Homo sapiens: one gene and its partners. The protein of the gene in region 4 interacts with the protein of the main gene of each other region in a pairwise test. Each region holds a gene or a part of one and is shown on either strand. Other genes may lie near its edges.

Region 1 (3,500 bases), on a different chromosome or scaffold from region 4:
TATTTTTCTTATTGTTAGAAGTTTTAGGAAAGGGAAAGGCTCAAGATAATCCAGATATAAAAAGGTATAAATACCTGTTTAGAAGACAGCATGGTAAGATGGTAAAAGTAAGGTCTCTGAAGTTCGGAAAACTGAGTTTTGAATACTGCTTTTCCAGTAATTTTTTGACTCTGGGCAAGTTATCTGACTTGCCTCAGCTTTAGTCTTCTTAATCTGGAAAATGAAAAAACTGATGGCAGCCTCAAACAGATCGTGGGGTATAATGAGTAGGAAAGTGACATGCTGAGCACTGTATACAGATGCATGTATGTTAGCTAGATAACAGTGGAGGCAGCGGGTCCAATTTTGTGGGGGCTCTTGCTTTAGTACGGGTAAAAGACTCAGTGAAGGTGAAGCCAGTAGGCATACAACTTTTGGGTTATGGGAAGAAGAGGTGCCAACTCCAAGACCAAAGTTTCAGGCTCAGGCAGAATCTGTTCTAGACCTTTCTTCCCTACTTACTCTCCCTGGACAATTTCATGGCTTCCATTTATATATTGATGACTCCCAAAGCTAAACATCCACCTCACCCCTCTCTCCTGAGATCCAGTCCTAGCCTATGTAGCAAACCTGCTGGATATCTCATGGGCCTCTCAAACTGTTCTTTTAGCTATCCTCAAGCTTTCCACAGCAAAAGGAGCTATATTCTCTCATAATAGTTGTTCAAAGGCTCTCACATATAAAACTCTGGTCCCAGACCTTCATGGCTTTGCCTTCCTTTAACTACATTGTATCCTGAGGCCTAGAATAGGACTATGAGCTGGGACTGTGTGATTTTTTTTCCATGGCACTGATGTTGGTAATTATGGGCTTAGACACTTATTTAAGTAGATGCTTATAAATGTCTAAGCCCGTAATTACCAACATGAGTGCCATGAAATTGAATCTAAGACACTTAAGTTCAATTCAAGAAACCTTTCCTAGGCACCCTTTCTGTGCAAGACCTATGCATGATGCTGGGCAGACAGAAGAATCAGATATGGCCCCTGAGACTGCCTGAAGGCAGTTGACATGGACTGGGATAGCATTTGAAATCATTGTTGATCACCAGCCTTGGAATCAGACAATCCTGGGTTTGAATCACTGTTAATAGTTTTGCGGTATGAGTGAATTCCTAACTTATTTAATTTTGAGTTTCTTCATCTGTGAAATGGAGATAATGATATATCTCAGTACAGTTACATGAAGTTTAAATGAAAAAAATGCGGGTAGTCTAACAAATGATGCCTTTCATTATATTCAGGAAGTAATCACGATTCCTTATGAGATGTCCTCCTGTTTCCTCAATATGGATTATATCAAGACCACCTTCTGGTTTAAAGAAAGCCTCCTATGAGTATAGAGAGTAAATGGCGAGGATAAGGAACATTCCACAGAACAAAGGGAAATGGCTAAGGCTGCATAGATTCCAAACCACAGCTTTGCCAGCACTGTGTTCAAACCAACTGACTTAGTTATGAAATCCTGGAAAACTACCACCTATTCATAGTACCCCTTGGGTAAATAATTTAGGCTCTCTGAACCTAAGGCTCCTAATCTGTGCAATGGGAGAGAAGAGTTTGGAAATATTCCCACCTCATAGAATAATCATGAGGATTACCCATGAACATGTTATTTTATGTGTACCTGGCACAGTGTTGTTGGTGTATGTGAGTTCTCTCTGATTATACCTACTCTTCCAAAGAGGAAGGACAAATGCGTCCCTAGTCATCAGAGCTGATCTAACAGAAAGAACAGGGAGATTGGAGTTGTAAGTTTTGGATCTAGTCATTTGTTCATCATTCATTCGCTAAAGACTTAAGCATCTACTCAGTGCCCTACCCTGTGTTAGGTCTTATTAGGGATATAGAGCAAGTAATAACACCATTGTCCCCTGTTCTTATGGAAATGACACACTCCTGGGGAGGCAAGCACCAGTGGCATGTAAAATGTAAACTTACTTGAAACTTACAAGAGGGCCATGTGCTGCTCTGTGTTTGGATCCAAGTGCATTAACAACTTTAGGAGCTAGAAGGGAGAGGTGACTAGGCTTGAGCACCCAGAGAGAGGCAGCTTACTGCAGGAGGAGGGGCACAGGATGGACTTTACTAAATGGGATCATCTTATTCCTCCACTAATTAATGAAGTGGCCTTGGGCAGGTTACTTCACTAATCATGGCCTCAGTTTCATCATCTCAGAAAAGAATTTCAGTATTTTTGTGCTTAATTGTATAGGGTAGATTTTGAGAATCAACTTTAAAAATGGATAGAAGAATACACTGAAAACTTTTGAATCCTGCGTAACTGGGGTAAGAACCACAGGATGTAATGACCAGAAGAACTTTCAAGCCCATTCCTTTATTTTATAAATAGAGAATCTGAGGCTGAGAAAATCTGCTGTCTCTACTTATGGGGGCTCTGGGTCTCATATCCTTTAGTCTCCTTAGGGATCTTCTTTATCAGTCATCGCTGTTCATTCTCAATCATTGTCGCATTAGTTACGAGCTTACAGTGTTCTGTAAGACAGTATGAGAAAGTGCTTAGTACAATGCCTGGCACATGCTTAAGTGCTCAGATGGTAACTTATTATTGTAATAATACATTTTGAATCCTTAACATAGCTTACAAAATCCTTAATGGTTTGGCCCCTGCTTACCTCTCCAGCCTTATTGTTAACCACTCTCATAAGCACCATGCCAAGCTTCTTGTATTCCAAGCCATTTCAAGCCTTCCTTCCTTCCTGGTTCCCTCTTGGATTGTGAAGTTCCCTTTCTTATGCTCTTACAGCCCCATGTAGCCAGTTTTATCATAGGAATGACATGCTGCATTAAAATGTTGGTTTTTGTGTTTTACTCCCCTACTGGACTGTAAATCCCCTGAGGACAAGAACTGTTTCTTCTATGTGTCTCTGGCCCACAGTAAATGTACACTAAATAGGACAGAAGGAAAAAGTGAAGGGAAATGATTGGCGCAAGGTTACAATTACTTGTATTACCATCCTCAGCAAGACTTGATAATTGGGTCCAGAGTATTGAGGTGAGGTTGGAAATGGGGAGGTAGGTCCTGGGCTCCTGGAATGACCTATGAGGCTGCATAAGAGAGGGCTCTTTTAGTCGCTGAAGTTGCCTTGCTTTGATTCCTCTCCAGGGAAGTTCCAGATGCAGGTCCTACCCCAGTGTGGCCATGCAGTCCATGAGGATGCCCCTGACAAGGTGAGTCTGGTGCTCAGTGACTGTAAAAGGACAACTGTGAGAATAACCCTGGATGTCACAGAAGACAAGTCTCTGAGTCTCAGCCTGCATTGCCTGCAGCAGCTGCTGTGGAGCCTATGCAGATGCAGTTCCACCAGCTCTCCAACTTCTCCCTGGCAGCTGCTTATGGTATTGGTTTTGTGTATATGTGCTGAGGAGCTACTGACACTCTGCTATTTCATCCCAGGGCCCTGTGGTTAAGATCTTAAGCTCTACTTCTCCAATACCCCC
Region 2 (3,500 bases), on a different chromosome or scaffold from region 4:
CATATGGCTCAGGTGGGAGAGCCAGACTTTGAACCCGGACAGTTGGACTTCAGAGCCTTTGTTTTTTTTCCATGACAACATGTTGGGGCGCCTGAAGAAATCAGGCTCAAATGAAAAGGCAGTCAGGAGCTCCATGCCTCAGTTTGCTTTTCTGTAAAATGAGAGTAACAGACATGATGCCATCAGAATGTGTAAATATTAATCTGTGTAACCTGAGAACAGCACTGAGCATGTGGAAAACAGCGTGTAGGTGTTTGCCGTCAGTAGCACCCGCAGAAGACATTCTCAAGGCATCTTCTTGGCAGGCAGAGTCTGGGACCCTTTGTCCTAAACCTACCCAAGGCTGTGAAAGTGCCTGCAAATGCTTGACCTAGGTATTGCTTTTTGCTAAGCTTATGTAGGTTGCATAATAGTGTCATGAAAATCTTGTCTGAAATGCACATTTCCAGGCCCGGTCTCCTGCGATTCTCTCTCCATCAGGGGATATGCTGTTGTTTCAAAGCTCCTTTGGCTGGGTTGGGAATGGGGTATCCTGCAGGCAGACAGAGTTGAGAACCTCTGCTCTGGAATGACAGGGGAGAGAAGAAGGAAGGTGTAGTCATACATGCCGCTGTACCTTCAGGCCACCCTGTGTCCACAGTGCCAGGGAATTAGTGAGTGCTCAGTAAATAGCTCTTGTTTGCTATAGTGCCTTGGAGGTTCAATGCATCACATCAGCTAACTGAGGTAGAAGACATTCTTTCCACCTCTCAGGTCAGAAAATTGAGGCTCAGGCTGGTGACTCTTCTGTCCAGAGTCCAGTGAGTGGGGTTCTGCCCAAGGTGAGCCTCCTGAGCCCTTTCCACCCTCCAACATTGCGCTTGGAGGCCACCCACACCCTCTGGGCCCACCTTTTGAGAAGGAGCTTGTTTCCTGGATCCACCCCAGGCTGTTGTTCCTGCCTCCCTTGATGGCTGTGTGATGGAAGTACCGCGTGTCCACTTGCTTTTTATCTTTCAACTTGGAGATAGAGGCAGGCTAGATAGCGGTCTTGGCTGAGAACTTAGCCCAGGCAGGTAGGCAGAAGGGCTGGGGACACTGAGGCCCCACAGGAAGGCGGCTGCAGAGGTAGAGGGCCATGAGTAGGTGCCAACCTGGAGCCGTGTTCTCGGGGTGGGGGCCATGTGAAAAGAAACCTGGGCTCCCTCGGGTGGGGCGTAAGCCCCAGCACTACAGAATGGGAATGGATTACACAATCGGGGCCATAAGCAGGTCTCTTTGACCCAGATCTTTGACTTTCCCACCTAACATTGTTTGCAGACCTGCCTATGCCCTACCTGCCTGGGCTCCATCTCTGACCTTTTGAGTCCAGCGGGTTTTCTTGCAACTGAGCTGGTAGAAAGTGAGGCTCCTTAACAGTCTGGGGGCCTTGAGTGCCCTCCCCAGCAGTTTAATCTTTCCTTTCTTTAAATCTGTGGGGAGACTTTCTGCAGCTATACATTTTAAATCTGCATAGAGTTCTGTTTGAAGAGAGGTGGGTGGGGGCCCAGGTCTCCACCTTGTTCTCCTGCCTTCACCCTCTGCCCCACCCCCACGGAACCTAAGAAGATTCCAAGTAACCCTCTTCAAATATGGATGTGAGAGGGCCATTTAAGAGGTGGGTCTATGGCCTCTCTCAGCTGGGAATGCTTACCATCTCTCCTTCCTCCTTTTTAATCATGGAACTCTCCTCCTTTCTCCAGAAAGGCCTCCTTGGCTGTCCTCTGCTGGAGGGGAGGCTGGGTTGGGTCCTTCCTGGGACCTGTCCATGTCTCCCATGAAACCTGAGAGCCTGTCCTTAGTAGGTGTTGTGTTAGTGGTGGTGGAAAGGACATCTCCACTGATTAAGGAAGTAACTTGGACCATCTTGCATAGACAAGATCGGAGGCCCATTCCGGAGGGTGGAAACTGCAAGACCATTCTGGGGAAGGATCCTGTTAGCGTGGCTAGCATCCCATCTCGGGACAAAGGGTTCTGTATGAGGAAGCCATTTCCTCGTCCTCTGCTAACACTGGCTCCGTTTGTGTGATTTCCACAAATTATCTCAGACCATCCAGCGCAGCTCATGCCTGTCTTGCAATTTCACAAAATAATCCTCTAAGGAGACCAGTGTCCTCCTTTGGACTTCCAGTTATTCACCTCGTCCCCTCAGACGGTCGTCTTCTGTCTGCCAAACAAATTACTCGTGCTGCCAAAACTCCACTGAGAATCTCCAGGAAGATCTCGGTTGTATTGCAGAAAAGAGGTGGGCCCTGACGAGATTCCTGACACCTCCCTCTTCCTGCTGTTGTGTTTGGGACACTCTTGCTGACCTCCCTGGTGCTGTGCTCAAGTTGAACACACAGCAGTTCAGTTTCAGCTCCAGCCCCTCTGGACCCACACCCAGGGAGTGAATGCGGCTTTGGCTTGTTTGAGAGGGAGACAGTGGGGTTCACCTTCTTAGTGATCCCTTTTTCATTCCTTGAATATCAAACATCACTGATGCCTCCTGGGTTTCAGGCTCCACTGCAAAGTACAGGGGCCCTCGAGGAGTTCCTACTGTGGTTTTGTTCTCTGACATTTGTACTGTTTCCTTGATTCTGATTGCTCTGATACAGTTCCCTAACCTCTAAACTAGGGAACTTTCTTGAAGGTCCAGTGAATCCACCCATATTGTTTGCTGAGTTGATTAGTTAAGAAAGACAGTTCGTGAAGACTGCCAACTTCCTCACCCTCCCCAGGGCCTTGAGTTTCAGAAGGGCCAGAAAACACCAAGAGAGCCCATGAACTGCTTTGTAGCTTGACTTCAAAATCTCTTTGGGCAAAGAAATGACAAAGGATTGTATCCACAGTAAGGCAGGGCTATCCAGGGCCTATCTCAAGGTGGTTTTCCTTGAGGTTCAGGCAGAAATGGTGCTGTTCTCGGCAATTTTCTGGGGAAGTTGCTACAGCAAACAGCCACAGCACATGTTGATTTTTTCCCTCCTTTTAAAAATCTGTTCTATAAAGAGCACAATGTGCTGGAGAGAACACTGGCTTTCATGTGGCCTTAAAACCAGGCATGTTACAGAGGGTGGAATCTGGGCCAGTTGCTGTTGGTGACAATCGATGCTACCCTTGTCAGCAATTCCCGCCTGCTCTCCCTTTATCTGCTTCACTGAAGGCCTCCAGGGGACTGTTGTCCGCCCTCCCCCGAGGGAATGAGTGCCACACCTGCACCCACAACAAACCAGTGAGTTTTTCACCTTTCCCTCAGTAGGGAGGAATCTAGACATGTGGCCTTTGGAAGTCAAGTGGGCCTTTGTGTTTGTTTTTGAGCCTCAGGTTACCCATTTGTGAACTGGGTATAATACCCAGCCTCTCCCGGGGCAACCTCCTTGAGGAGCAAGTGAAACAGTGTGCTGAGTGAATGCTTTTCCAAAGCATTGAGTTGGCCGTCTTAGGAAGGTACTATGGGGGAGCTGAAAACAGAGAACCTTCTGGGTGTTGTGAAGGGAGAAAAG
Region 3 (3,500 bases), on a different chromosome or scaffold from region 4:
CTACCTCATAACAAGGTTTGAGGGAGGCACATCTCACACCTGAGTGTGAAAACCCAGTCATCCTGCTTATGAGCTACAAAAGGATCCTTGTATTTTTTTATAATCTGATTTTAACTCAGAATATAACAGTATACCCATATGAACCTTGTATAAAACAGGGTAATTCAATATTCCCAGCTCCTGTTCGACACAGTGGAGACCATGGGAAAAGACTATTTGTCATCAGACCTTCTAGATTCTATGACAGGCGTTTTTTGAAGTTATTGGTAAGTTTAAATTTTTTGTTGAATTAAAGTCTTTGCATGTAACAGGGAAAAAATTTTTGCCTCTTTAGAAAACATCTTTCATTTTATGAAATATTTTATTTTGTAAATTTATATTTCTTTCTGTAGAAGATACTGAGACTGTAAAGTCTGATTTGTTATTGAATTTCTCTTTAAATTAGTGAAGCTTTCCTTCTTCACAAAAGGATTTACACTAAATGGAGGTAAAACTTGAACCATTCCTTTCTTCTGAAGATTATGGCGTTTCGAAATAGAATCTGTGTTCCTATAACTAAAATATTCTTTAAATTACCAAAGAACTTGTTGAAAGACTTGCTTAAATAAAGGAGCTACATTATTTTGGGATATGATTTTATATTTATATGTTGTTCAGGAACATTTATTTCAGAGAGTAACAGGGATCTATAGTGCAATCTTAATTTAGCAATAATATAATTACATTGCTTATTTAGAATGCTGACTATATTTCTGTCTCAAGGCTCTATACGAACAAAGTAGAGGCTTAGAAAATGGGAGATTGTCTGGACCATCTGCCACGGTAGATAAAGCTCTGAATCATCATTTGAGTACTGACCTTAAAACTTTCTCTTGCCCTTCCGTTGTGTTTAATGACCTTTTTCATCTCCTTGGTTGAGCCCTTACTTTTCTTGTTATGACCAGCTCAAATCCTATTTAGTGGTAGAAATCACCCTGATGCTTTTAGACTTTTGTTCTTAACATATTATTTTCTTTCATGGCATTGCTTTACCAAAAAGTAAAATCACAGAAATCAATAATTTGGTACTGTATGCCCAATTTGGCAAGTTTATTTTATAAGAAATATGAGGAAATCATATCATGAGGATGATTTGTGTGTGGGGAGAGTTACGAAATGGTCATGAGAAACACTTTTTTTTTTATCTTAGAGATTCTACATTGCATTGACTGGGATTCCAGTAGCAATTTTCATAACTCTGGTGAATGTATTCATTGGTAAGTCACTTCCATCCCCTGCCAGCACCACCAGATTGGAAAAATTTTTAAACATATGTACATTAATATAAAAAAGAAATTATGGATATTGTAATGAAAAGCTCTTTAAATAATTAAGCATAAGCATGGCAGTTTATCTTAAAATAACCAAATCTCAATCTGAACTAAGAATTTTTTAATCCATCCTAGAACATATAAAACTATAATCCTCGGCCAGGCACAGTGGCTCACGCCTGTAATCCCAGCACTTTGGGAGGCCGAGGCGGGCAGATCATGAGGTCAGGGGTTCGAGACCAGCCTGGCTGACATAGTGAAACCCCGTCTCTACTAAAAATACAAAAAACTAGCTGGGCGTGGTGGCAGGCGCCTGTAATCCCAGCTACTCGGGAGGCTGAGGCAGGAGAATGGCTTGAACCCAGGAGGTGGAGGTTGCAGTGAGCTGAGATGGCGCCATCGCACTCCAGCCCGGGCAACAGAGTGAGACTCTGTCCCCCCCCCAAAAAAAAACTATAATCCTCTTACAAAGACTGAAAGTGTCAATGACAGTAAACATTAGATTTTCGTGGGAAATTTTGTTCAAAGTACTTCTAACACCTTGAATCCTAAAATGTTTTGTATCATAGGTATAGGGAAGACCAGAAGGAATAATATGTCTTTTATTATATCTTGTTACAGTATAGAAAAACAAAATGAGAAACTCATGGAATACCTATAAATAATGCCTTACACAGAGAGATGTCTAAAAATGTCTAACAAATGAATTGATTTTCAACCAGATTAAAGTGAATTAAAAATACTACATATCTTCATTGGTACAAATTTTTTAAAGAATCCTTTAAAACCACAAGAAGTTGGTTTCTTACTTTAATGGTGAATAATTAATTTTATAAACTCCTCATGCTAAAGTTAAACATAACCATTTTTTCTTATTAGGTCAAGCTGAACTAGCAGAAATTCCAGAAGGCTATGTCCCAGAACACTGGGAATATTATAAGGTTTGTATAGGACATTGACAATTACATACTGTTACATGCCTTGTCAACGCACTAGTTAATGTCTTAATTCAGCAATTATGATATAGTCAGGTTTTTTGTTTTGTTTTTTTTGAGACAGCATCTCGCTCTGTTGCCCAGGCTGGAGTGCAGTGGCGCGATTTCAGCTCACTGCAACTTCTGCCTCCCGCATTCAAGCGATTCTCATGCCTCAGTCTCCCACGTCGCTGGGATCACAGGTGTGTGCTGCCACTCCTGGCTAATTTTTGTATTTTTAGTAGAGACAGGATTTCACCATGTTGGCCAGGCTTTTCTGGAACTCCTGGCCTCAAGTGATCCACCCACCTCAGCCTCCCAAAGTCCTGGGATTAAATGTGTGAGCCACTGTGACCAGCCATGATAGAGTTTTATATTTCATTTTTTATATCAAGCAGATACATTTTTTTGCATACTTTTTATAAACAACGAATTTTGGTACTTCATTTTTAAAAAAATCATTTTAAGCTTTACAATTTTTTAAAGAATGATTGCAGTGTGTTCTCAGCCTAACAGAGTAACATAATTTATCCTAAGTTCAATGCCTTAGGAGAGACTTCACCAATGTTAATGCTAGCTGTCATTTATTGAGCACCTACTATGTAACAGGTACTGTGCTGAGTGTTTTACAAATATTTATTATTTCATCCCATGTAAAATGTACTATTATTATTCCCTCTTTGTAGATGAAGAAAGTGAGGCTAAAAGAGTTAAGTGACCTGTCTAGATGGGGTCACTATTTCAACCCGGGCAACTTTGACTCCAGAGCCTGAACTGTTGGTCATTATACCATACTGCCACTGCTACCAAAATCCAAAATTAATTTTGTTACTTGTTTTAACAAGTGTTATTGTGAGCCTTGAATGGAGTATATCCCATCATGTTTTATTATCTGAATGAATTATATTTTAAATACAAATCTTAAACCATTAAATCTTAAGGCAGACCTTACACTTAGTTTGTTTATGCTAACTGGTGCAAAGAGCTCCATTTTTGAATTACCAAAACCTGGGTTTGTCTTCTGAATCTGCCACCTAAGATACTCAGCATAGTGTAATGGAAAAGAGTACACAGCTTTGGAGTCAGACAGACCTGGTTTGAGTCCAGGTGCTGCCATTTATTAGCTACGTAACTTTGTGCAATTCACTTATCTTTAAAATGCGGACAAAAATAGTATCCACCTCATCTGTTAAAATTATTTTATATATAGGTATAT
Region 4 (3,500 bases):
GTGGATTAGGCCACTAAAACAAATTCCCAGTCACTCCGACTCTGTGAGGTTACTTAAATAAATCCACAGTGGCCGGGCACCGTGGCTCACGCCTGTAATCCCAGCACTTTGGGAGGCCAAGGCGGGTGGATTACACGAGGTCAGGAGTTTGAGACCAGCCTGGCCAACATGGTGAAACCCTGTCTGTACTAAAAATGCAAAAATTATCCAGGCGTGGTGGTGGGCGCCTGTAGTCCCAGCTACTCGGGAGGCTGAGGCAGGAGAATCGCTTGAACCCAGGAGGGGGAGGTTGCAGTGAGCCAAGATTGCACCACTGCACTCTGGCCTGTGTGACAGAGTAAGACCTGTCTCAAAATAATAATAATAATAATCCACAGTAAAATACAATCATTTCAGTCACTTTGACCATTTTACGAGTCTGTTTTAAGGACTGACTGGTTGATTCCATGTTTGCTTCAAAATTGCCAGTTTAATCAGGGACTATTGGTAGGATTGCCCACAGACCACTTTTACAACAGGTAATTCAATCAGTTTAAATATTGTATTTCCATTTTTTTTCCATCTGTTTTTGCAGCGCCAGCCAGCCTTTGACACCTTTGATGGGTCCCTGTTTGCTGTTTTTCCTTCTCTAAATGAAGAGCAAACACTGCAAGAAGTGCCAACAGGCTTGGATTCCATTTCTCATGGTAATTGGTTCCTCAGACTTGACAAATTGTGCATGATTTTCCTAAGTAGTTCAGTTAATAAAGAGATGACAGTTCCTAAGTGAGAAATGTTGGTATCTGGAATCTTTGATATGAATAGCCAGAAGTTCTGGACCTGGGAGAAGGCAGTTTTTCATTTGTATCAACTTGGTGATTCTGATGTGGATTCTGATGTCTTGAGTGCCAGACGCCCCCCAGTGAGCCGCTGTTAGGAAACTGCAGGGGAACCCCTGAGCTGCCCCTCCTGGATGTTTTCAACATTGGCAAGCAGGTCCTCATCTCCCTGCTCTGCCCTGGAAAACAGACAGAAGAGTAGACATTAAAACACACCCAAACTTGTAATTTGGGTTTGCATCATTAGTTAAATCATCTCCCCTGCCCTGAGTTTTGGGGCAACAAATTGTTCTTTGTAATCCTTACCCATCGGTAGTTCTTTCTGTAGTTCTTCGTGTCATTGTTTATTCTTCTTAAAGGAATAGCACGTCAGATAATGTTCATACAATTACTGTGACAGAGCTATTAGTTGGAAACATGCCAGAGATGACTGTGTCATGTGAAGTAGGTGCTGAGAATACAGGCCAGAAAATTAATTAAAACGCATACACTGGCGTAAGCATAACCCTGCATGGCAGCCATTTATCATTCTTGAAATTGCTGAGGGTGTCTGGAGAAGATTGTTTTTCAATAAAAATGGAAGGTGTGGTTCCATTACCGTGCTAAGTGCGGCACATTCATATCACACTCACTTCTCAGCTCTACGCCTAGTTTAATGGAAGTGACTTCCAAATGATACAGTCCCTTCAGCCTTTTGACCAGAAACCATGCAACTGTTTTCATTGCCTACAATTTTAAAATAGACTTAGCAGTTTTCCCTACGCACAACTGCTTTGTGACGCTTTGCAAAATAGAATCAAATCTGAGTTTTATTTTAGATTTTTTTAATAAGTATAGTTCTGAGATATATATTTTCTCAATTATAGTCAGAAAAGTTTTTTGTTAATAGTTACACTGTTTTAAGGAATCATGCCAAGGTTTGAGATCAAAATTGTTCTTTTCCAAAAACTAAGATGTCTCTCCTAAATCTCCACCTGATATCACCAACTTGAAGTCCTAATGTCCCCATGGGGGGTTTCCTTCCAGACTCCGCCAACTGTGAATTGCCTTTGTTAACCCCGTGCAGCAAGGCTGTGATGAGTCAAGCCTTAAAAGCTACCTTCAGTGGCTTCAAAAAGGAACAGCGGCGCCTGGGCATTCCAAAGAGTAAGTACTGCTTTCCTGAGCCTGCACTGGGTGAGAAGAACCAACTTCAGTGCAGTTGTTTGATCTTGACTTGTTTATTAAGCTTTTGCTTGGGGTATTCTGCAAAGAGTAGCATGGATGTCGTTAACCTGAGCCAGTTTCTGTTTCACCCCAATCAACCCAAGACTTGATCCAGAACTCATTAAATATGTAGTAGAAGGACGCATTACTGGTGTCTTGAAATGTGCCTGGGTCGTGTCAGAATGGTGACGTGTCATCATGGTATCTTGCTCATTCGTGGGTTCTGGTGTATGTCGGTACTTGGTGCATAAATTAGGGATGACAGTGGTCTCACTACCTTTCCACTGTTTTTACCTCATGTGTTCCATTTTTTCTTCTCTCCTGGTAGACCCCTGGCTGTGGAGTGAGCAACAGGTATGCCAGTGGCTTCTCTGGGCCACCAATGAGTTCAGTCTGGTGAACGTGAATCTGCAGAGGTTCGGCATGAATGGCCAGATGCTGTGTAACCTTGGCAAGGAACGCTTTCTGGAGCTGGCACCTGACTTTGTGGGTGACATTCTCTGGGAACATCTGGAGCAAATGATCAAAGGTACCAGCTGAACGTCTTACTTCTCCTTGTCCAGGATGAGCTGTGGCCGGGAAGACTGATTGGGAAAGTCACGTGGGTGTTCTTCAACCTTAGGGTTGCCACTTGAAATGACATAGAGTACCTTGCCTCAAAATGCCACTCAAGTGAGTCAGATATATGGCAGTGATTATAGATTTTTATCCCACTTTATGTGAGTGTGTGTGTGTGTGTGTGTGTGTGTGTATAGCATCAAGTATAGCCACAAGGTAGTAGCCTTAGTCACTAAATTGTTTGCTATTGCTGGCTGTATTCATCACGGGAGTCCATGTTGACTCAGATATGTAGGACAGCAAGAATTCCCACGTCTTCTGAGCTCACCTTACAGAGCTAAGAGATATGGCAGCCTTAATGAAAGGGGGGAGCCTTTACTCACATAAACCCTGTGAATTCTACTGTAAATTTTCCTACATCCAAATGGAATGTATTTTGGATGTTGAGGATTGTTGAGGGGGCGGGGTCTGTTTTTAAACAAGTGAGAAATTGATATATATTTACACGCTATCATATTGTACAGAAACTGGCCATTGATCAGTAGAAATCTCACCAAATACAGAGAAAGTCTTGATTCAAAACTTAAAATAGCAGGGAGACCAATGTTTAAAACATGTTGAGTTAAAAAAGAAAAGAGGGCCAGGTGCGGTGGCTCACACCTGTAATCCCAGCACTTTGGGAGGCGGAGGCGGGCAGATTACTTGAGGTTAGGAGTTCAAGACCAGCCTAGCCAATATGGTGAAACCCTGTCTCTACTAAAAATACAAAAAATAAAAATATTAGCTGGGCATAGTGGCACATGCCTGTAATCCCAGATACTCGGAAGCCTGAGGCAGGAGAATCCCTTGAGCCCGGGAGGCAGAGGTTGCAGTGAGTCGAGATCACACCACTGCACTCCAGCCTGTGGGAGTGAGACT

Evidence for each region.
Region 1: the proteins of ETS2 (region 4) and PPME1 interact in a two-hybrid assay, tested with the Homo sapiens proteins (one large-scale study listed by BioGRID and IntAct).
Region 2: the proteins of ETS2 (region 4) and NDRG1 interact in a two-hybrid assay, tested with the Homo sapiens proteins (one large-scale study listed by BioGRID and IntAct).
Region 3: the proteins of ETS2 (region 4) and NDUFB5 interact in a two-hybrid assay, tested with the Homo sapiens proteins (one large-scale study listed by BioGRID and IntAct).

Annotation. Positions count from the first base shown.
Region 1 is NC_000011.10:74,247,789-74,251,288, forward strand, and holds part of PPME1 (protein phosphatase methylesterase 1), read left to right. Parts: intron 1-2,357; exon of another isoform or gene 2,358-2,534; intron 2,535-3,165; coding exon 3,166-3,230; coding exon of another isoform or gene 3,231-3,470; exon of another isoform or gene 3,471-3,500. UniProt on the Homo sapiens protein: Demethylates proteins that have been reversibly carboxymethylated. Demethylates PPP2CB (in vitro) and PPP2CA. Binding to PPP2CA displaces the manganese ion and inactivates the enzyme.
Region 2 is NC_000008.11:133,290,753-133,294,252, reverse strand, and holds part of NDRG1 (protein NDRG1), read left to right. Parts: intron 1-3,500. UniProt on the Homo sapiens protein: Stress-responsive protein involved in hormone responses, cell growth, and differentiation. Acts as a tumor suppressor in many cell types. Necessary but not sufficient for p53/TP53-mediated caspase activation and apoptosis.
Region 3 is NC_000003.12:179,614,794-179,618,293, forward strand, and holds part of NDUFB5 (NADH dehydrogenase [ubiquinone] 1 beta subcomplex subunit 5, mitochondrial isoform 1 precursor), read left to right. Parts: exon of another isoform or gene 1-85; intron 86-177; coding exon 178-266; intron 267-1,189; coding exon 1,190-1,256; intron 1,257-2,189; coding exon 2,190-2,251; intron 2,252-3,500.
Region 4 is NC_000021.9:38,812,429-38,815,928, forward strand, and holds part of ETS2 (protein C-ets-2), read left to right. Parts: intron 1-574; coding exon 575-686; intron 687-1,844; coding exon 1,845-1,964; intron 1,965-2,352; coding exon 2,353-2,553; intron 2,554-3,500. UniProt on the Homo sapiens protein: Transcription factor activating transcription. Binds specifically the DNA GGAA/T core motif (Ets-binding site or EBS) in gene promoters and stimulates transcription.